7 separate regions of the Homo sapiens genome follow, and all the other regions are reported to be linked to region 3. The links are microRNA targets in miRTarBase. Many come from high-throughput screens and were not tested one by one. Region 3 holds a microRNA gene; each other region holds the end of a gene's coding sequence. Distances are between the middles of the regions.

What was found. The annotated mature microRNA hsa-miR-4753-3p reads UUCUCUUUCUUUAGCCUUGUGU and lies in region 3 at 1,487-1,508, opposite strand. An mRNA with a match to its seed (bases 2 to 7 or 8) in the 3' UTR can be bound and repressed. Matches are read on the target gene's strand: a 7mer-m8 pairs with bases 2 to 8, a 7mer-A1 pairs with bases 2 to 7 and ends in A, and an 8mer does both.
Region 1: the mRNA of COL4A4 is a reported target of hsa-miR-4753-3p. Seed matches in the 3' UTR shown: 7mer-A1 at 2,700-2,706 and 7mer-m8 at 2,198-2,204.
Region 2: miRTarBase lists RPAP2 as a target of hsa-miR-4753-3p. Seed matches in the 3' UTR shown: 8mer at 1,400-1,407.
Region 4: miRTarBase lists FAM53B as a target of hsa-miR-4753-3p. The part of its 3' UTR that is shown has no 7-base or 8-base seed match.
Region 5: miRTarBase lists ASCL1 as a target of hsa-miR-4753-3p. Seed matches in the 3' UTR shown: 8mer at 2,171-2,178 and 7mer-m8 at 1,570-1,576.
Region 6: the mRNA of METTL15 is a reported target of hsa-miR-4753-3p. Seed matches in the 3' UTR shown: 8mer at 593-600, 7mer-A1 at 1,688-1,694, 7mer-A1 at 2,084-2,090 and 8mer at 2,382-2,389.
Region 7: miRTarBase lists ATXN3L as a target of hsa-miR-4753-3p. Seed matches in the 3' UTR shown: 7mer-m8 at 2,619-2,625.

The regions. Positions count from the first base shown.
Region 1 is chr2:227,004,591-227,007,685 of GRCh38, forward strand. It overlaps COL4A4 (collagen type IV alpha 4 chain), which reads right to left. Exons shown (of 48, transcript NM_000092.5): 48 at 1-2,998. The coding sequence ends at 2,735. Among named protein-coding and RNA genes, the nearest start is that of COL4A4, 160 kb to the right of the region's middle.
Region 2 is chr1:92,386,491-92,389,585 of GRCh38, reverse strand. It overlaps RPAP2 (RNA polymerase II associated protein 2), which reads right to left. Exons shown (of 13, transcript NM_024813.3): 13 at 1-2,575. The coding sequence ends at 2,575. Among named protein-coding and RNA genes, the nearest start is that of RPAP2, 89 kb to the right of the region's middle.
Region 3 is chr1:235,188,554-235,191,648 of GRCh38, forward strand. It overlaps MIR4753 (microRNA 4753), which reads right to left and starts at 1,563; the gene lies at 1,481-1,563. The region is part of intron 19 of ARID4B (AT-rich interaction domain 4B); the gene reads right to left.
Region 4 is chr10:124,620,521-124,623,615 of GRCh38, forward strand. It overlaps FAM53B (family with sequence similarity 53 member B), which reads right to left. Exons shown (of 5, transcript NM_014661.4): 5 at 1-3,084. The coding sequence ends at 2,722. Among named protein-coding and RNA genes, the nearest start is that of FAM53B-AS1, 82 kb to the right of the region's middle. RefSeq lists an enhancer at 1,171-1,671.
Region 5 is chr12:102,958,552-102,961,632 of GRCh38, reverse strand. It overlaps ASCL1 (achaete-scute family bHLH transcription factor 1), which reads right to left. Exons shown (of 2, transcript NM_004316.4): 1 at 2,631-3,081; 2 at 1,120-2,271. The coding sequence ends at 2,678. Among named protein-coding and RNA genes, the nearest start is that of ASCL1, 2.4 kb to the right of the region's middle. RefSeq lists enhancers at 1-1,083, 2,429-2,960, 2,961-3,081.
Region 6 is chr11:28,330,578-28,333,656 of GRCh38, forward strand. METTL15 (methyltransferase 15, mitochondrial 12S rRNA N4-cytidine) reads left to right here. Exons shown (of 7, transcript NM_001113528.2): 7 at 1-2,930. The coding sequence ends at 264. Among named protein-coding and RNA genes, the nearest start is that of MIR8068, 150 kb to the right of the region's middle.
Region 7 is chrX:13,316,158-13,319,157 of GRCh38, forward strand. ATXN3L (ataxin 3 like) reads right to left here. Exons shown (of 1, transcript NM_001135995.2): 1 at 2,490-3,000. The coding sequence ends at 2,710. GS1-600G8.3 (unknown transcript) reads left to right here. Exons shown (of 17, transcript NR_046087.1): 14 at 405-545; 15 at 2,631-2,679; 16 at 2,851-3,000. Among named protein-coding and RNA genes, the nearest start is that of ATXN3L, 2.4 kb to the right of the region's middle.

The DNA of each region.
Region 1 (3,095 bases), not on the chromosome of region 3:
TGGAGGTGGAAAACAAAGGCTGTGTGAGACGGGCACGGGGCTAAAGAGGAGGTAGCCATCCAAAGCAGCGATGACTCAGCTTTCAATGTGGGGAGTGTGAGAGCAGAACGAAAGGGCCACTCATAGCATGGAAACCTGCCTGGATGAATGGGCTCCACTCACTGAGAATCAGAACCCAGAAGGAAGCATCCCAGATTTCCAGCACGGGCACAGAACAGAACAGTTCCCATTAGGGCAATCTAGGCACGTTCCAGTCTACAAGGTTGGTGGGGAGGCAGGGAGAGAAGGGTTTGATAAGGATCATCTCCAATAATGGGTTAGGAGAACAACTTAAAAGCTTTGTTCATCACCTCCACAGAGAAAGGGTAATTGAAGGCACATTGATATATAACCAGGTGAAGAAAATAATGGTTTAAGGTAACAGGATCTTCTATTCCAAGAAGTTATTTTTCCGCCCTTTTGATCCTTTAAAATACTTTTGTAAAATTAGAGGGCAGTGTTAATGCTGCATTTAGAGACAGCTCTTGTAATACTAACATTTTGAACAGTCTGATACCTTCCCAAGCTCACTGTGGAGTAAACTGTCTACATAATTTAGCCTGTCTTTGTGTGGGTTTTTTTTTTTTACTTATTTATTAACTTATGAAGATAATATTCTAATACCAACATTAAAGTGTTTAAAATAATTAGCAAGCAAGATACGTTTCTGATGTTCCATTTGTCACCCTTACCTCTTCCCAGAAAATGTTCTCAGGCCAAGTTCAAGATGAACAGGTTGAACTTTTAGGAGGGTTGACTTTTGGTAATAGATAAAGCTTTTTGGGAAGGAGAAAGGTAATCACAAATAAGATTGAAATTGGCTTAAGTTTTAGGTGCACAAAAATATTCAACATGCCAGAGCATGGTTTAAAAAATATCAAATGGGTCAAATGAACTAGGAAATATTCTGCTACATCAAGAAAATATTTCATCTTAAAATACACATTTTTCTTTTTACCAGAAAATACTCTTAAAATAAATTGCCACCCTGGGGGCAGCCCATAGCAAAACTCATTTGAAATGTGTTCTGCATATAAGAGCTCATTACAAATCAAGGTTTGGCAAGGAAAACATTTCTTATAAACAAAATTTTAATTGAGTTTTTCTTCTCAATTATTTTTAAGTGCACGGAAACAAAGCACTAAAATGAGTGTCACGCTCATGAGAAATTTCTTTAGTTTTCTCTAAAATGCCTTTTTCTTTTAGATGAGGAAGGTGAGTTTCCTAAAAATTTTTTCCAACAAATCTTTTAAATTTAGGATTAGATCACCAAATTCCTAGCAAAACAGAAAAAGGGATCTTTTGCTTTACAGAAAAAAATAATCATTATAAATTGACACACATTCTAAACTTTTTTAGAAAATACTAATGCCAAATGTCAAACTGTTGCCTTGGTACAAGACTGATATGAAATATAAGAATGTCTTTAAAATTGGCAAAATGGGATGCTCCTGTAACAGCCAACCACGGGAGCATAAAATTCAAATTATAAATTGTCTTTGTTTCGTTTAAAGATAGTGCCATGTCCTCCTGATGGGGTAACCCTGACTTAAATGAATCTTCTTACCTAAGTTTAATTAAATCGGCCCTTAATTTTCTCCCAAGTGCATAATGATAGCTCTGTCACGTCCCTGTGTGAGCTGCCATTATGTGTGTGGAGCAAAGTGTCCGTTGTGAGTGCAAGAAGCTGTGCAGGCTCTCCTGGGGAGGGGAGTGAGATGCTTTGTATGAAGCGCGTGCCTGCCTGAGTGAGCCCCATGTAGCGTCAGTCCCATTAGCACGCACGCACCTGTGACACGCCGGACCCCGACTGGGGAAAAGCAGTCTGTCTGGAAGTTCACTGCAATGGGGAGTCAATTTTTGTGAATAACTACCTTAATATTCACTAATAGCTTTTAGGCTCCTAATCTCTTATTGAATATTTTTTTTCCATAATTGCTACTTTTCAAAAGGGTTGCCAAAGTAGGCATTTCTATTCTCTGAAAAATGCAGAAGAGAACATAATGTTTTATATTCATCTGTGATGTGTTTATGCTAATGTCGCATCTCTGGAATACGGCGACTGTGGGCCTTCCTGCCATCATGATTCATTCTCCTTTGAAAGGAACTGTTAACGCTGGCAGTGTGAATTTTTTTTTTTCTTCTTTAAAAAAAAATCTCTCTTTGCGTCATGGTTTTACCATTATTTAAAGTATATGGAAAAATAGATTACAGAGGAAATCATTTTGAAATGTTGAAAATCTCTGCTTTCTAGTTTCATTCATTGACCTGTTTATTTTTTCCTATAAAATCCATCCAGAAGCCCACTGTATTATAGAGTAATTGACTTCAATTGTTTGAGATACTGTTAACCCAAGAATGAAGTTTTCAGTAATGTAATTTGTAATCTGGCCTTTATCATCTACTTGCCTTTCTGAGAATTAGCATATTTTTAAGTAAAGCCAGTTCTTCGATCATCCTCAGTAAAATAAGAGTATCTAGGCTCCCTAGATTGGGAGGTCCAAACAAATCCATCTGTGCAGCATTTGCTTAATGTGTAAGGAACCAGAGGACTCTGGGAATAACCACGACAAAACAGAAGGAACCACTGAAAGGGAGTCCAAAATGAGCACCATGACATCTCTTAGCACAGTCTAGGAAGTCTTAGCCCCCTAGGAAGTTTCTCTTGGCCACGTGTTGGTGAATTTCGCATTCTCTAGCTATACTTCACGCAGACCTGGCACCGGCTGATTTTCTGGCGTTGGGCCTGGCTTTCTTTTAAGGTGTCTGGTGCTGGAGCAGAGGAAAACTGCAAGTCTGCTTTCACCGTTGTGAGCCAGAAGCTATACTTATTTGCGAAAAAGTGGCAAGTTCCCTGCCGGCCCTGGCATTCAAGGAATGGTGCTGCTCTGAAATCTTCCAGGCAGCTGCCAGGTGACATAAGGGCCTGCCCTCCTCCTTGGTCCCCAGCTCCTGTGTGCTACCCAGAAAACAAGAGAGAATTAGGGCTCAGACACACACAGACAACCCCAGACCCAATCAGGGACACACCCAGGTTTGGGTCTGATCTTAACATT
Region 2 (3,095 bases), 140 Mb from region 3:
TTATTACCGACCTTCTGAAGCCTACTTCTGTCAACTTGTCAAACTCATTCTCTGTCCAGTTTTGTTCCCTTGCTGGCAAGGAGTTGTGTTCCTTTGGAGGAGAAGAGGCATTCTGGTTTTTGGAATTTTCAGCCTTTCTGGTCTGGTTTCTCCCCATCTTTGTGGTTTTACCTACCTTTGGTCTCTGATGTTGGTGTCCTATGGATGGGGTTTTGGTGTAGATGTCCTTTTTTTGATGTTGATGCTATTCCTTTCTGTTAGTTTTCCTTCTAATAGACAGGCCCCTTAGCTGCAGGTCTGTTGGAGTTTGCTGGAGGTCCACTCCAGACCCTGTTTGCCTGGGTGTCACCAGTGGAGGCTGCAGAACAGCAAATATTGCTGCCTGATCCTTACTGTGGAAGCTTCGTTCCAGTGGGGCATCTACCTCTCTGAGGTGTCTTTCGGCGCCTACTGGGAGATGTCTCCCAGTCAGGCTACACGGGGGTCAGGGACCCACTTGAGGAGGCAGTCTGTCTATTATCGGAGCTTGAACGCGGTGCTGGGAGAACCACTGCTCTCTTCAGAGCTGTCAGGCAGGGACGTTTAAGTCTGGAGAAGCTGTCTGCTGCCTTTTGTTCAGATATGCCCTGCCCCTGGAGGTGGAATCTACAGAGACAGTAGGCCTTGCTGAGCTGTGGTGGGCTCTGCCCAGTTTGAGCTTCCCTGCTGCTTTGTTTACACTGTGAGCATAGAACCGCCTACTCAAGCCTCAGCAATGGCGGACACCTCTACCCCGCCAAGCTCCCACGTCCCAGGTCGATTTCAGACTGCTGGCGCTAGCAGTGAGCAAGGCTCTGTGGGCGTGGGACCCACTGAACCAGGCATGGGAGGGGATTTCGTGGTCTGCCAGTTGCGAAGACTGTGGGAAAAGAGCAGTATTTGGGCAGGAGTGTACCCCTCCTCCAGGTATAGTCACTCACGGCTTCCCTTGGCTAGGAAAGGGAAATCCCCCGACCCCTTGGCGCTTCCCAGGTGAGGCGATGCCCCACCTTGCTTCGGCTAACCCTCTGTGGGCTACACCCACTGTCCAGCCAGTCCCAGTGAGACGAACCAGGTACTTTAGTTGAAAATGCAGAAATCACCCATCTTCTGTGTCCATCCTGCTGGGAGCTGTAGACTGGAGCTGTTCCTATTCGGCCATCTTCAATTTATTTTTATTTTTATTTTTTGTGGAGACAGGGTCTCACTTTGTTGCCCAGGCTGGTCTTGAACTCCTGGGCTCAAGCAGTCCTCCTGCCTCTGCCTCCAAAGTGCTAGAACTAAAGGCATGAGCCACCATGCCCAGCCCTCTTGAATGTTTTATAGTTTTCGTTATACAAGTCTTATACTTATTTTGTTAAATTTATTCCTAAGTATTTAATTCTCTTTGGTGATATTGTGAACACAATTTTCTTTATTTCATTTTTGGAGTTTTCTGAACAGAAAAATACAATTGATTTTCTGTATATTGATCTAGCCTGTGACCTTGCTGAACTTGATTAATTCTATTACACTATGATTTTTTGTTGTGGTTAGACCCTTACACAATCAAATGAGGTTAAAAAAAATTGTCAGAGTGGCCCCAGACCAACAACAGGATGACAGTAGCCTTTGCCCATACAGAGATAAAATTTAGTTTTTGCAGTCCTTTCCCATAGAGATTGTATGGCAGTAGCCAATTCTATGGCCTACTGCCATACAACCTGAACTGAAGTCCAGAAAGTTTAGGTGACTGGGCCACAGAGCTAATTACTGGTGGAGCCAAGAAGAGAAATTATATCCCTACCTCCTTGCCCACTAAGCTCCCCATTCCAGTGGGCTGCTTTCTGGTCCTTTTCCATGATTGGGCTTTAGTAGCTGTCATTTCCTCCAGTGTCCAAGAGTATTTTCTTGGCCTTCCAGTAAAGCTCCCCAAGTTGTCTGTGTTCCGCCTCAACTGCTAACTTGCCTACCTGATAAACATTTTGAAAAGCAATCTAAATTCTAGAAATTGTCTCTCCTGCAAACAAACTACAGATTCCATTTAAAGCATTTCCTTGAGTCCAGAAAGTTCTGAGATTTTCCTGTTTTGGACTAGACTTCCAAAGGGCTTCATCTTAAATTGTATGTATTTATTGACCTAATTGTTTACTGATCTTTAGAATTTAGAGTTTAGGTTGGGAGGTCAAAATCATAACTTTCTCAATTTTTTTGGCAAACTGATATGATGGCTGGAAATCATCCAGAAAAAGTAGAGATCATTATATTTTCTTGAATATTCATTCAAGTTTCAATTTAATACTTAAACATTCATTTTCGAATAAAAATACTATGTCTTGTACTAGGGATACAAAGACTTGGTTATTCTTGTTGGAGTAATGATTCTCCTCTATCTGGGGAGGTCATCCTCTGCAGTTGGGGACTGAAGGACTGGGAGATGGGAGATTGAAACTTAAAGAGGTAAAGGTATGTCTTGGAATAAAACTAGTTATCAGTCACCACCAGACCATCATGGCGGCTAGAATTCCAGAAACGGTGAATAGAAGTTCATCTTCTATTTTGTCTTCATGGAATATATCTGTGAAGCAAAAAAGGATACTTTGAGTAAAACATGTATTGGGAGGCCAAGGCAGGCAGATCATGAGGTCAGGAGTTTGAGACCAACCTGGCCAGCATGGTGAAACCCCCATCTCTACTAAAAATACAAAAAAACCCAAAAAGTTTGCCAGGCATGGTGGCATGCACCTGTAGTCCCAGCTACTCGGAAGGATGAGGCAGAAGAATTGCTTGAACTCGGGAGGCAGAGATTGCAGTGAGCCAAGATTGCACCATTGCACTCCAGCCTGGGTGACAGAGCAAGACACCATCTCAAAAAAAACCCAAAAAACAAAACAACAAAAAAACATGTAAAGTATTTTACTAGCTGTTGTAGACACTGTGTGTCTTGTCAATATTCATTCAATTTCTTCCCCATCATGTATATTCTACCCAACAACAGTTTGGGTGGAGTAGACTGAGCTTCGTATTCAACTTGAGGGCTAAGTTTTAACTGATCAAGGTCAACTGGAAAAGCCCTTCTCTTTCCTTCATCCCTAGCC
Region 3 (3,095 bases):
TGCTAACAACTGTTGAAGGCACAGGTACAGATGCGATGCTGAAATTAGGGGGATTCATGAACATATCTAACCACTAAGAATCCTCCACCCCACTCTCTGTTCTTCAACTAGATCCTAGAACACTGGAAACCATTCTCTTACCACCCTCCAGTCAAGAGATTGGAACTCTTTTCTCTGGAAGCCAACTAGTCTAAGAGAAAAAGACCTAAAGACTTCATATTATGAATTCCCTAGGACATGGCCAACCAGATCACCCGATAGTGAAACTCAAGGTCAACAAGTGCCAACCATATGCTTGCAATTTCCAAATCAGTTTAGTCTTTCCTTCATAATCATAAGACAGCCAGGAAAAAAAATTCTTAATAGGGAAGAGCTCAAAACAACAACACAGAAAAAAGCAAATTAGAGGTAACTGAAAAAACCAAAAATTATAAAATCCTTTGAAAGATCAAAATCCGAAAGGTAAGGTATTGCATCCATCTATAAGAACAGAGTGGTACAAAACACACAGAAAACAGAGCTCTTGAAAAATTAAACTAGTTTAATTTAAAAATATTCATTGAAAGGCTGGGCGCAGTGGCTCACGCCTATAATCCCAGCACTGTGGGAGGCTGAGGCAGGTGGATCACAAGGTCAGGAGTTCAAGACCAGCCTGGCCAAGATGGTGAAACCCCATCTCTACTAAAAATACAAAAAATTAGCTGGGTGCGGTGGCAGGCGCCTGTAATACCAGCTACTCGGGAGGCTGAGGCAGGAGAATCGCTTGAACTTGGAGGGCAGAGATTGCAGTGAGCCGAGATCATGCCACTGCACTCCAGCCTAGGCAACAGAGTGAGACTCAGTCTCAAAAAAAAAAAAAAAAAAAAAAAAATCATTGAAAACTTAAACATTACAGCAAAAAGTCAACAAAAGGATTAAAAGACAAAGCAGATAAAATTTCAAAGAAATAAAAAGACAAAAAAATTAATAAAAAGCAAGAAATTAAAAGGTGAGCATATTAGAGTATATTACAGAAGGTATAATATCAAATAATGGCTGGCCAAAGAAAGATAACAGCCAAGTGCAGTGTCATGCACCTATACCCCAGCTACCCAACTACTTGGGAGGCTGAGGCAGGAGGACTGCTTGAGCCCAGAAGTGTGAGAACAGCCTGGGCTGAACATAGTGAAACACAGTCTCAATTAAAGAAAAAAAAAAATTTGGCAGGGCTGGGACAGTAGCTCATGCCTGTAATCCTAGCACTTTGGGAGGCTGAGACAGGAAAATCGCTTGAGCTCAGAAGTTTGAGACCAGCCTGGGCAATATAGTAACACCTCATCTCAAAAATAGTAACAATGAACAAAAATTAAAAAGGAGAGAACAGTAAAATGCAGGAGAGGAAATCATCAAGAAAATCATTCAAAAAAACTGCCTAGAACAGAAAGACAGAAGTTGCTAGAATGAAAGAGTCTAGCAAGTAGGCATCACAGGGGATGAAAATATATCTACACAAGGCTAAAGAAAGAGAACAGCCAAGTGTACTGTGGATATATCTGTTCTCTTCCTTTGGCCTTGTGTAGATATATTTCAGAGTTAAATTTCTGGATACGAAAAACAAAGATTCAAGATTCCTAGCAGGGCATGGTGGCTCATGCCAGTAATCCCAGCACTTTGGGAGGCTGAGGTGAGTGGATCACTTGAGGTCAGCAGTTCGAGACCAGCCTGGCCAAAATGGCAAAACCCCATCTCTACTAAAAATAGAAAAACTAGCCAGGCGTGGTGGCAGGCCCCTGCAATCCCACCTACTCGGGAGGCTGAGGCAGGAGAAACACTTGAACCCAGGAGGCAGAGGCTGCAGTAAGCCAAAATTGTGCCACTGCACTCCAGCTTGGCCAACAGAGTGAGATTCCATCTCAAAAAAAGAAAAGAAAAAAAAAAGATTCCAGAGACAGAAAAGCAAAAAATAAAGAATAAAACAAGTCACATACAAAGAATCAGGAATTGGAAGAGCTCTGGACTTCACAAAAGCAATACTGGAAGCAAAAAAACAATTCAACACTGCCAATAAAATACTGAAGGAAAAACTTCCAATCCAGCCAAACTATGAATAGAATAAAGATATTTGCAAAAATAAATACAGATATTTAAATGCAGCCAATCTCTAAAAATTCCATCTCATGCACTTGTTCTTTAGAAGCTACTAGAGAATGTGCTCCACCAAAATGAAAGTATGGGGGTGGGGAGGAACCTGAGATGCCAAAAACAAAGAAATCCAAGAACTACATTAAAGGAGATCCCTAGAATGGGATCTCCCTAGGAAAATAGCTGTGCAACAGATATAGAGGGAAACCAGTCCAGACTACAGCAGTGTTATTTCCAAAGAAAGTCATACTGCAGGCTATTATCATTAAGCTACCTGCTACCGCCTCTCTGTAGTCTTTGAATGCCTGAGTGACCCAGACTGGATTTTAAAATCTGTATTTATCTTGTTTCAACTATGTGTCAATGAAATTCCAGCTCTCCCTTCCATGTCTTATGTGCCACTACCTAGATCAGCTAATGACATCATTTTATCCAGCAGAAACATTCTGACCTACTTGTGAAAAATAGGGGTAAATCACCATAAGCCTAGAATGAGAATATATATAGAGTAGTCTGCTACTACGACTGAGCACACTCCCACATAACATCCACTGCGAATGTGTCACATATTCTTTTTATTTTATTTTTTTTAAGATGGAGTTTCGCTGTTGCTACCCAGGCTAGAGTGCAATGGTGTGATCTTGACTCACTGCAACCTCTGCCTCCTGGGTTCAAGCGATTCTCCTGCCTCAGCCTCCCAAGTAGCTGGGATTACAGGCACCCACCACCACACCCGGCAAAGTTTTTGTATTTTTTTTTTTAGTAGAGACAGGGTTTCACCATGTTGGCCAGGCTGGTCTCAAACTCCTGACCTCAGGTAATCTGCCCGCCTTGGCCTCCAAAAGTGCTGGGATTACAGGAGTGAGCTACTATGCCCAGCCAAATGTGTCAGATATTCTAACTGTAGTGGACCCCTAGGTTTATCAGAACTGGCTTATGACCTGTCCAACTGAATTCTCTAGAGGGGCTTTTGT
Region 4 (3,095 bases), not on the chromosome of region 3:
TGCCCCCAGCTGGGGCCATCATGCTGGTGGGGGTGAGCTGTCTGCCTGCTGCCCATGGGGACACCAATGTGGGGGGCACCTCCTAGGCGAACCTCCCTCCCAGAGGACTGAGATCAGAAGTCCTGGGGCCAGCAGGGTGGAGTGCAGGAACAGGCTGCTCCGGGCAGTGTGGCAGCTTGGATGATGGGGTGGCACCTTATAGATAGGGTCTACTCCCTCCAGTCAAAACACAAACATGAAACCAGCTAAAGGCCATTTCTTTCTCTAAGCAGAAGGGATAGCCACCATTTTCTCCCCTGACTGCTGCGTGGTGGGCACAGGACAGGCAGGCGGGGTCTGAGGAGGCTGGGTCATTTCTCCCTAAGCGCCCTGGGGCTGGGCTTGCTGGTCGATGGGACCAGCTTGCGGGGAGGTGGGGAGGTGGCTGTGACTCAGCCAGCTCCACAGCTTGTCCCTTCCTGCCACCAGGCCTGAATGGGGAGGTGGCAGGCAAGGTTTGAGGGCAGGTCACCCACACCCCAGTCCCACGACATATACCTGTCACCATGTGCCTCCCACCCCAGCCCTAAGCAAAGGTAGCTGGGGGCTGCTGCATGCCTCAGCCTCAGCTGGCACCGTCCACCTCCCTCACTGCCTCTGCCTTCCACAGGAAGGCCTGCTATAGAGGCTGTGTGCCCTCGGCCACACCGGGCATGTGGTGCCAGGACCCCCCACGCCCAGTGGTACTCCGGGGGCAAGACATGGCCATGTGCTCTCCACATTCACCCAACAACTGCCCTGGCCGCCTCCACATTTGCTCTAAGAAGACATGGTCTCCATGACCCCCAGGCAGGGACAGGCCAAGATGTCTCTGTCTGCTCAGAGCCACCAGCTCTTGGGTTCGGCTGTCCGGGATCACAAGTAGACATGCCTCCGGCAGGAGCTACAGCAACCAGAGGTGAGCTGGTTCCCCGGCTCTGGGACCTGCCCAGTGCCCGGCATACCCCATGTGTCAGCCACCTGAGCTAGCAACACCATCTCTCAGGGCTGTGGGGCTGGGGGCTTTCTGCCAGCTCCTTAAAGCTGATTTTTAAGAAGTGCCACCCACATATTGGGAACTTGAACCACCATCCTTTTGATGTAGTAAAAAAATAAGATTTAAACAACGTTTCCCAAAAAGCATCTTTCTTGAGGAGAAAGAAGGTGAGAAGCATCTGGACTCAACCTGCAGAAGCGAGGCGTTCACTCGTCCATGAAGACGAGCAAAAGCAAAGTGACTACAAAAGTGCTTTGAACGCGCGTGTCAGCCAACACAAGGGAGCGCACCAGTTATTTTTAGCCTTATGGGAAAATGAGCCACTTGCTCCTAAGCCAGCCCAATTGCTATTGTTTGCAGAAGACGCCACATTCGCTAAAAGCCAGATTCCCATAGAGCAGAGCCCATGTGGTGGTGTCTGCAAGGCAGCCGGAGAGGAGCTACAAACCTTGAGAGGAGAGCAAACCCTCAGGGGGCTAGGCTCCTCGGATGCCCCAGGGTGAGGAGCCAGGGTGGGGTAGGGGCAGGGAGCATGAATCCAGCTTTGTGCCGGTGGCTGGGCCTACAACAGAGATGCAGCCCTCAGGACTGGGCTCCCCCTAAGCTGACAAGGGCGTGGGCTTGTCTTGAGGTGGGTGATGTGCCCTGGTTACAGCCAGCAGTCCTCAAGGACAAACGGGAGGTGCCTGGAATCCTGCAGGGGCCCCTGCAGAGTGGCCAGCGGACGCCCTTCACCCCTGAGTGCGCATAGGGCCCTCATCTGCCCACCTGCTCGCAGCTCCCGTCTCCCGAGGCCGTTTTCAAGAGGCTGCCCTGGTATCGTGCCATCCCTACACTCACCGGAACCAACCATGCTTATCACTCAGTGACCTGTCAGCCACAGAGAAGGGCTGCCATCTGCTAACCCTGCCCCAACGGTGGCAGAGCCATGGGGTCAGCCTCTCCATGCTGTAGGAGAGGCAAGCAAGTCCGTCTTTTCAGCCAACAGATCCACCAAATTTCTACCCAACACGGGAGGCCCTAACAAGCACCCTCCAAATCGTTCCTTGGGCCCGAGACTCCGGACATGGCTTACCCTCTGGAGGGCCAGTCCAGCACCCCAGGGATTCTGTCTCTCACATTGGAATTAAGGCCAAATGGTTCTGGTGTTACAGAAGGAAGCATCTCCCGAACCTTCCCAAGCCTGAAGCAGGGAGACCTGGGAGAGAAGGCACGGAGTAAAACTGAGTGAAAGAAGCTGCGGGGCCGACTCCCCAGAAGTGAACCTGAGTGAGGCCAAGAAGGGCCCTGACATAGCAGATGGCCCCTGGCCCCCACCCCAGGCCCTCCCTGACAGCCCCCACCACCAGGGGGATACAGAGCGGTGCCCAGCTCTGCCGGGGACAACAGAGACTGCCCAACATCCCACAGGGAAAGAGGCAGAAAAGACGCAAACTTCAAAGCTGTCCTCTGGGCTGCAGTAGTTCTGTGGACCTGGTGGCTGCCACGCTCGGGGAGCCGGTGAGAGGCTGACACACCCGCTGTATGACGCGGCCAGGCCAGGCTCTCCCCCAGGCAGCAGGTGGGCTCCCTCTCTGGGACCCGACACCACTCAGGAAGCTTTCATCAGGCCCACGAGTTGGGCTCCCCTTCAAGGGCCCACCTAGTGCCCAGAGTGGGGGCTGTCGATGCCAGCACACCCCAGCCCTGCCTGGGCCCACACCCCCTCAGTTCTTCTCTATCTGCTCAATGTCCAACTCGCCGTCCAGGGAGCAGAGGCTGTTCCCAGGGGCCCCGCGGTCCCGCCAGGCTGCAGCCGGCTCCGCTCTCCTGCCACAATCCTCGTCCAGGGCGCAGCTGTCTGACTCCTCACAGGACAGGTCCTCCTGGCAGGCGAGGTGGTCGTCGAAGGAAGGGGGAAGAGGCTCAGGGACCGGGGTCCCAGCGGGGGTCCTGCCCCCTGGGCCGGAGGCTGAGAGCAGGGCGGTCCAGGCCCTGGTGTTGCTGACGTGGCGGGCGAAGGGGCTCTGGGGACCGCAGTCCTCTGTCCCTGCGCTCAGGCAGCTGAGGCTGCTGAAGGTCTGACAGTTCTGTGGAGGGG
Region 5 (3,081 bases), not on the chromosome of region 3:
TCTTTGAAAGGGACTGAAGCCTCAATGTGCATTCTATAGAGGGTCATTTAGCAAAATGACATCAGACGCTGTGGCGTGCTCCGCGCATCGTGGCTTTAAAAAATGATTATTCTGTGCCACTAAATGGTATAGATGTACCAACACAGACTAGATTTTTAACTCTGGAAGACGTGCTGGCTACCCGTTCTTTGTTGGGTTTTGTAAGATGCATTTTGCGCTCGGCTTTCCGCTTGGCTGGAGACACGCAAACTGAATCTGCAAGTAATGCAGGCGGCGAGCGAGGAGCCGGCGAGAGGCCGAGTAGGATTCTAATCACGTCCTTGCTAACTGACAAGAAGCAAGCCAGCCAAAAACCCACCAATTTCTTTTTGAATCTTGGTAATTGGGTACTTTTACACGCAGCTCACGCTATTCGGATAGAGTCACAAGCTTAGATAGACCAGTGTCTCAAAGCGACCACACATTTCTAATGCGTTTTTTTAATTAAAATCTCAATCCGTTTGGAATGAATTCATATCATATATGCCTCTTACTTAAAATCAATATAGCAAGTAGGTGTATTGGAGAAAATGAGTAGAAAATGTATGCCTGGAAGTGAGGGAAGAGAAACATACTCACCACTAGGAGCTTGTATGTGGAGAGGGATGCCTCTCCAACCCCCATCCCAGAACCACCATCCTCCCCACCCAGACCTAGTCTCCATTATTTCATCCAGCCCCACCATAGTTTCACAGGGAGAAACTCAGAATGGAGTTGAGAATTGGAAAATGGTGGAGGACCCTCTCTTTCTGGTTCACTTTTTTGGGGGATTTTAAATTTTGATCAAAGGATAATGCAGCCATCTATTCTTTTTGGTGGGCATGTACATTTGCAGCATAGGATAGAAAGAAAACATATATACATGTACATACACACACACACACACACACACACAAACACACACTCATTCATCATAAAGAAACCATTTGGATGGGACTGGCCATAGCACTTATCATTGTCATTTCTGCCACTTAGCATGTTTTGCAACATTTTCTTCTCCATCCACCTCTTCCCTTTGACATTTTCATAAAACTGGACCAGGGGCATCAGAGTCAAAGAAAGCTTAGAGTCAGCTGATTATTTTCATTTTAAAAAAAGGAAAAAGTTTTATTACGAAACTAGTTTGTATAAAACAGGGTTATACATATTTTTGTAAGTTTGTAATAAAACAGTAAGAAAAAAAAAGGCAGTAATAGAAATCTCCAAAAGGCAACCTATCAAAACCAACTGGCTGCCACTTTGAGTTTGGACAGTAGCTGCATAAACTTTGTTCTTCTTGAACAGTATTTAATAACATCATTAATACATTAACAACATTTCTATAAAGTAAGACACATTGGTGCTGAAGTACAACTGGTGGCCTCTTGATCTCACCTATGAGGAGAGTTCTTTACAAAACCACATAGGGAAAATTGCAGTTGTAAGGTGAACTACACATCTAAAATATGCAGAGGTAATAGCATTACATGTTAAAGTATCAAGATATACACATTTTAAACCATTTGTACAAAACTTCTATAAATTTTTCTCTCTCTTTCTCTCTTATGTACAAAAATATCTTAATATATCCCCGAACTGGTTAGGATAGATACAAATAGATTTTTTATAATAAAAAATTCACAAAAGATTGGAAGCATTCTATAATGAAAATGGTAGAAAAGACAGTGTGAGGGAAGCCATGGGGTTTGGGAATCGGGCCCTGGAGGAGAAGCAGAGTTTCAAAGGGCTGAGAATAGCATAGTTTCACTGTAAACCAATGTCTACAGCTTATTGGGGTGGGGGCTACTGAGACGAAAGACACCAACTCGTTTCTAGAGGGCTAAGAACTGCACTTTAAGAAAGGGCGAGGAGGTGAAGGGACCCGAGCAAGAACTTTCAGCTGTGCGTGTTAGAGGTGATGGGAGTTACTATAACGCGTGTGCTGCTCCCTTCTGCCAGGAGCCCACTGCTTTTGCACACAAGCTGCATTTTGCGCATTGACTCAGGTCCCAGTTGCTCTTCATATCTCCGTGAATGATTGGAGTGCAAAGATACTGTTCTGAGCGCTTCCCGTTTTCTGAAAGCCATGTCTCTCAGGCATGCCTCGCTTAGTTGGCGATGGGGTTGGTTGACTGTTTTCGTTTTTTTCTTCTTCTCTTTTCTTCTTCTTCTTCTTTTTTTTTTCTTTTCCTTTTCTCCCCCTCCCAACGCCACTGACAAGAAAGCACTAAAGATGCAGGTTGTGCGATCACCCTATAACATAAGGAAAAGAACAGGAGAGGTTAATTTGAACGTGTAGGCTAGTGGTAGAGGGAGATGGAGGTCTGGGGAAAGAGTCTGTCAGGTAGACATCTCTTTTAACATGTCCCAGTATTCGGTTCACCAGTATCTCTGCACCTCACTACTACCCTTCACTCCTTGGAGACCTGGGCAAGGCCATTTTCAGAGGCCAGTGCTGAAACTAACAAACTAGGACTTGAAATCGACCAACTTTCACAAATTCTTTAAATAAAAATCCCCTTATCTCCTTGGAGACATCCCCACTTCCACAGACACTCAGAGGGAGGACGAAGGCAAGAATACCCCCCTGCCCACCCCAAAATGCAACCTACCTGCTTCCAAAGTCCATTCGCACCAGGGCCTGACCAGGCCGAGCCCCTCAGAACCAGTTGGTGAAGTCGAGAAGCTCCTGCTCCTCGGGGCTGAGCGGGTCGTAAGAGCCCTCGTCCGACGAGTAGGATGAGACCGGCGAGCCGGCCATGGAGTTCAAGTCGTTGGAGTAGTTGGGGGAGATGGTGGGCGACAGGACGCCTGCCTGGAAGGCGGCGCTCACCGCGTCATGCTCGTCCAGCAGCTGCTGCAGCGCGCGGATGTACTCGACCGCCGAGCGCAGTGTCTCCACCTTACTCATCTTCTTGTTGGCCGCGCCGTTGGGGACGTGCTCCCGAAGGGTGGCAAAGCCCAGGTTGACCAACTTGACGCGGTTGCGCTCGCGCTCGTTGCGGCGCGCCACGGCGGCCGGCTGCTGCTGCGGCAGGCTGTAGCCAAAGCCGCTGAAGTTGA
Region 6 (3,079 bases), not on the chromosome of region 3:
TTCCATTCACTAGAGGATCGCATCGTCAAAAGATTTTTGCTTGGAATAAGCATGACAGAAAGATTTAACCTAAGTGTTAGACAACAAGTGATGAAAACATCTCAATTGGGTTCAGATCACGAAAACACGGAAGAAGTCTCTATGAGAAGAGCTCCTTTAATGTGGGAATTGATACACAAGAAGGTACTTAGTCCACAAGATCAGGATGTACAAGATAACCCCAGAGGGCGCTCAGCCAAGCTTAGAGCAGCTATCAAATTATAAGTTATCATCATCTTATTCTTCAAATTTTTTTCTCACAATTTCTCTAATCTTTACTCATGTTATGTCCCTGAATGTCTTGGTATAGGTTTAAGTGTGGGACAGTCTGAAAATTGATAGCATTTAGCATTTCTTTTTTCTCAAAAAGAAACTGTAGGAAATACATGACAGAGAAAGTTACACTCAGGGAGCAGCAGCACCTCCAGACTGGAAAAATATGTTAATCTTTGCATCATATTGGACTCTTGAAGGCAATCCTTCCTCTGGCCAGGAAATTTTTTAAAAAATAATACTGTGTTGTGTTTATCTAAATACGTAAACTCAAGCTACCAAAGAGAAAGATGTTGTAATCATATCTGCATGTCCTAAATTTTGAATTTAGATATTCCAATTTGCATCAGTCTTTCTGTGGCTCAAATAATGATGATTATGGAATGAATTTTAATGTCCCTACTTGTGAATAATTAGCTTTCTCAAATGTAGGCTTTTTACAAATTTTAAATTTTAAAATATTAGTTTAAATGTGTGTTATACTGATAAAATTTCATCTTTCAAATTATAGTCTATTATTTTAAAGGGATTTTTCAGTATGATATGGGCCATTTTGTTCATCTATCGCAAAGTAAAAATGTAAAATCCTTACAGAGAATTGTTTCACAAAACTTATATTTCATGTCAATTGTATTTATTTTAATAATAGCTCACAATGCCTTTAGTAAGTAATAAAGTCTCTTATTAGAATCTTGTATTTTTTAATTGAGCTAATCAAAATAATTCAGCCAAGTCTATTTGAAATAGAAAACTGTCTATTTAATATAGTAAAATCAATGCTCCCTTAATGTTGTTACAAAGATATGGTAACTGTAATATGGGTAAAAGTTTATTCAAGAAAAGAGTACTTGGTAGAAGATTCTTTAACAAATTGAGGAGATTGATTCATAATTCACATGTCAATTTTTTATAGTAATATGTACTTCTAATTTATTATTTATACTTAAATTGTGACCTGAAAGATGAGTTGGAGATAATTAGTCAAAGGGCACATGGAGTATGGAAGGGGGCATGTTGATTAACCATACATAGAAATAAATATTCTCTTAGTTATCCTTGAAATCATATTTATACTATTAATTTGCTCAGTGCACTTTTTTCAAATACAGAAAAAAGATTCTCCATTATAGTTACAAATTTTAGGTTGGTGAATCCAAGTGAATGAAATATCAGCATAACTATGTGGGCAAAATAGATAGAATTAAATGCATGAATTTTCCTCAGACTTATTTTATCTGCCTCTGTAATATTTAACTTTAGTACCCAGGCTTGTTCACTACTTCTGCTTTACAGGCTTTATTTAAATCTGAACAATCCTACAGGGAAATCAGAATTAGGAAAAAAATCTGGAGAACAATATGGTTGAAATAGAAACAAGAGAATGCACCTAGGTTAATTCCCTGAATCCTACTTGAACATTGTATAAATTTCTCTTTGCATATAATACATATTTGTGAATGAGACATATTCCCAAAAAATTCTTATCTCTGTATGTGATTGGAAAAGAAAAGATCACATTTGTATATTCAACAATCTTTCACCTATTTCATAAGTCATTTTTTCACCCTGTATAGTATGGGAATTATTTTTTATGTTAAATAGAAACTGAATGTACTGGGTTGAATGGTGTCCTCTCCAAAATTCATGTACTTCCTGGAGCCTCAGTATGTGACCTTATTTGGAAATACTGTGGTTGTGGTTGTAAGTAGCTAAGATGAGGTCATACTGGAGCAGGGCAGGCCCTTAATCCAATATGACTGGTGTTCCTTATAAGAGAAGATAGGGCGGGCATGGTGGCTCACGCCTGTAATCCCAGCACTGTGGGAGGCCAAGCCAGGCAAATCGCTTGAGGCTGAGGAGTTCAAGACCAGCCTGGCCAACATGGCGAAAACCCATCTCTACTAAAAATAAAATTAGCCATGCGTGGTGCTTGTAATGTCAGCTACCCAGGAGTCTGAGGCACAAGAATCACTCGAACCTGGGAGGTGGAGGTTGCGAGATCACACCACTGCACTCCAGTGTGAGCAACAGAACGAGACTCTGTCTCAAAAAAAAAAAAAAAAAGGAAGAAAGAGAAGATAGAGACACAGGGGAGAATGCCACATGAAGCTGGAGGCAGAGATTGGAGTGATACATTGTGGGAACCCTCAGAAGATAGGAAAAAAGCATGGAATAGATTCTCCCTCAGAGTTCCAGTAGTTGCCAACCCTGCTAACATGGTTTTGCACATCTAGCATCCAGAACAGTGAGAATGTATTTCTGCTGTTTTAAGGTACCCAGTTCATGGTAATTTGTTACAGCAATCCTAGGAAGCTAATACTCTGACAGAAAAAAATCTTGGATAATATGCATGAGAAAAATCCTTCAATAAACACAAAATTGGTTTCAAAATGTTTTCATGTAAAAATAAATTAACTTTTCTGTAATTAGATTGTGTTTTATAGTAATTCTTGCCTGCTTCTTAGTCTTTGTTGTAGGATGCATAATAAAATACATGAATGAGTTTTAAATGGTTAGCTTTGGAGAATGGTTTTGGGAAGTTCCTACAGTACACAGAAATAAAAGCTAATGTTACTATGAATGCGCATTACTTTTCTAATAAAATGTTTCTGAATCTCTGTCTTGACTGCCTTCTATGAATCATTTTAACATAGTATCAATGTCATTGTGTAGTACATCAGTTCTTAACAGTTTTTAGTTCATTACTTAAATAAAATTTAATAACTACAATTTTTAGATAATATCCCTATTTTTATTTTATTTTTAA
Region 7 (3,000 bases), not on the chromosome of region 3:
TCCTAACCGTGATACTGAACAAGGAATTTTGCAAATCACCAGGTAAGAGATGATTGTGTCTCTAAAAATGTGGTGACCGTGGGATTTTGCAGATATCCAATTAAGGAATAATGTGTTCCTAGAAATTGTAGTACCAAGGTATTCAGCAGTTACCCAGGAAAGAAATGGTATGTCCCTAGCAATGGCATTTAATCTGGGTAATTTGTAGGTCTCCATGTATGGTAGGTTTTTCTAAATCTGATAGATCTCATGGGCTTCTGTAGGCATCCGCATGAGAGATGATATGTCATAAATTGTAAGTAACTGCCACTACCGTAACCAAAGTATTTTATAAGTGTCCAGCTAAGAGCTCTGGCTTTATGTATTTGTTGGATTTATGACCATTTTTTTCTGTGTTTTCATAGTTTTTTTTCTTTTTTTGAGAGTCTGGCTGAGGTATTGCTGATGCACGCATAAACCACAGCATGCACCATGGGACTGTCCCAGGGACCTGGTTCACTGATGAGATGTCCCCACACGTCTTCCCGCCGTGATTTCTTTCACAGGTACTCAGCTGAGAAATGATTGAGTCCTTACCAATCCCAGATTGGCCAGGTTTTCCCATTTTCTGTTTCAACAAAAGTGTATGCTGAAACCTGTGAGTGTAGAGGGATTGCAGGGAGTCAGGTATTTATCACTGTATTCCCCGCCCCCGTGCTGCCCCTAGGATGTCTACAGGTGAACAGTCGAGAAACGGTGGTTTTCTGCTATCAGGGTCGACCTGAGATTACTGCAAGTATCCAGGTCGAGTGGGTGTGTCCCCAAAAGATGGAAATCAAGGTTATTTGTAGGAGTGCTGGTGGAAAACCCCATGTCCTTCTACACATGTGTCTTCTACACATCTGATTTTGCAAGCTGCCAGAGAAGATATGATGGTGTCTCTAAAAATGTCTAAACATGTGGTGACCACGGGATTTTGCAGATAACCAGTTAAGTAATAATGTGTCACTAGAAATGGTAGTCCCAAGGTATTTAACAGTTTTTCAGTCACCCAGGAAAGAAATGATGTGTCCTTAGCAATGGCATTTAATTTGGTTAATTTGTAGGTCTCCATGTCTGGTAGGTATTTCTATATCTGGTTGATCTCCTGGGCTTCTGTAGGCATCCACATGAGAGATGATGTGTCACAAATTGTAACCAAGTGCCAAGGTATTTTACAAGTATCTCACTTAAAGCTCTGGTGAATATAAGTTTTTGAAGATACCCAGTAGGGAATGATGTTGGCCTAAGCCGTGGTAATGCCCACGAGTAGTGCCCATATCTTGGTAACAGGTGGTGTGTGTCTAATTATGGTTGTCACCATGGTTTTTTTGCAAATTCCAGCAACATAATGAAGACAATCTTAACCGCTCTTATGAATATAGGATTTCGCAAGAATTGAGGAAAGAAATAATGTGGGCTTTAACCAAGTAGACATGATTAGATTTTGGGGATTTCTAAATAAGTGATCACGGTGTCCCTAACCATGGGATTTTGCAGGTTGTAGTCAATAGGTGATGATGAATTTAACAGTAGGCGCAAACATGGGATTTCTTGATACCCAGGTAAGACATGATGTGGTCCTTAAACATATTACAGACCATATGATTTTTTAGATACCTAGATAAGCAATAATATATCCTGAAATCTTGATGTTACCTTTTTTTTTTCCCATTTAAAAAGTCGCTCATTCTCAAATATTTGTGCAGGGCTGATTTCAGAGTATAAGAATGCACCAGCGGTTGGCCCAGTGACTCACGCTTTAATCCCTACACTTTCGGAGGCCGAGGCGGGCAGATCACTTTAGGTCAGGAGTTCGAGACCAGCCTGGCCAACATAGTGAAACCCTGTCTCTACTAAAAGTACAAAATTTAGCCGGGCGTCCTTGTACATGCCTGTAGTCCCAGCTAGTCGGGAGGCTGAGGCACGAGAATCACTTGAACCCAGAAGGCAGATGTTGCAGTGAGCCGAGGTTGGGCCACTGCAGTCCAGACTGGGCGACAGAGCGTCTTTGCCCCCATCACCCCACCCCCAAACAAAGAAAGAGTAATGCACCAGAGTCATGAAATAATGATCTTACCACAGAGGGCGTAAAAAACAAAACCTCAGAAAATATTACCATATTTCGAAAGACTTGTGGAAAATAATTAAGGACCAGGTAGCAGAAATTGTGATCAGAGGAAATAACATAAGAATATACTTAAGCGCACAGTACATAGTTGGAGGGAGAACTGTTTATCCTTCTAAAACCGTTACTATGATCAACACAGACAAGAGACACTTCCCTGAAAGGTTAAATTGTTTCATGAGAAATAAAAGCAACCAAAATGAGCCACATTATCTACAATAGAAGAGACTATATGGAAAAAGTTCTATGGCAAGAGCTAATTCGTTGGTATACAAAAAGATCCATGAAAAATGACCCAATTTTAGACACATTAGATATTGCAGGCTCAAAAATCAAAGGAACATTTTGAAAGCTAATTTAAATTTAATTAATTGCTGAATGTCTCCTTGGCTAGTAGTTGAACGATCATTATTTAGTCCCACATCTCTCTCGTCATTTTGTTTGCAAACTGTCTAAAAGCCTTATTTCCTCATCTCTTTGACAGATGACCAAAATGGATCCTACAGTATAATCACACAGGATAATGTTGGAAAGTATGACTATCTAAATTATTTTTAAAGGCATTATTTTTCCCCTTTGATTTTCAAATTCTTTCTCATAATTTCTAAAATGGTGTCGACAGCGGCCTGTACTGTGCCTTCACTGATGTCATCACTGAGATCACTCTCAATTGCTCTCGAACTTGTTGTTGGCCTTTCGTGTAGGTATGAACTGTGGCCCGGCAGATCTGACTGTTGTTGCTGCTGCTTCTGTTCCTGCTGATGCTTTTCAAAATAGTCTTCTTTTATTTTCTTCGGCTGTTCTGAAGCAGGAGTTACACATGATGTCTTTGGAAGATCTTGCGATGTGTTTCC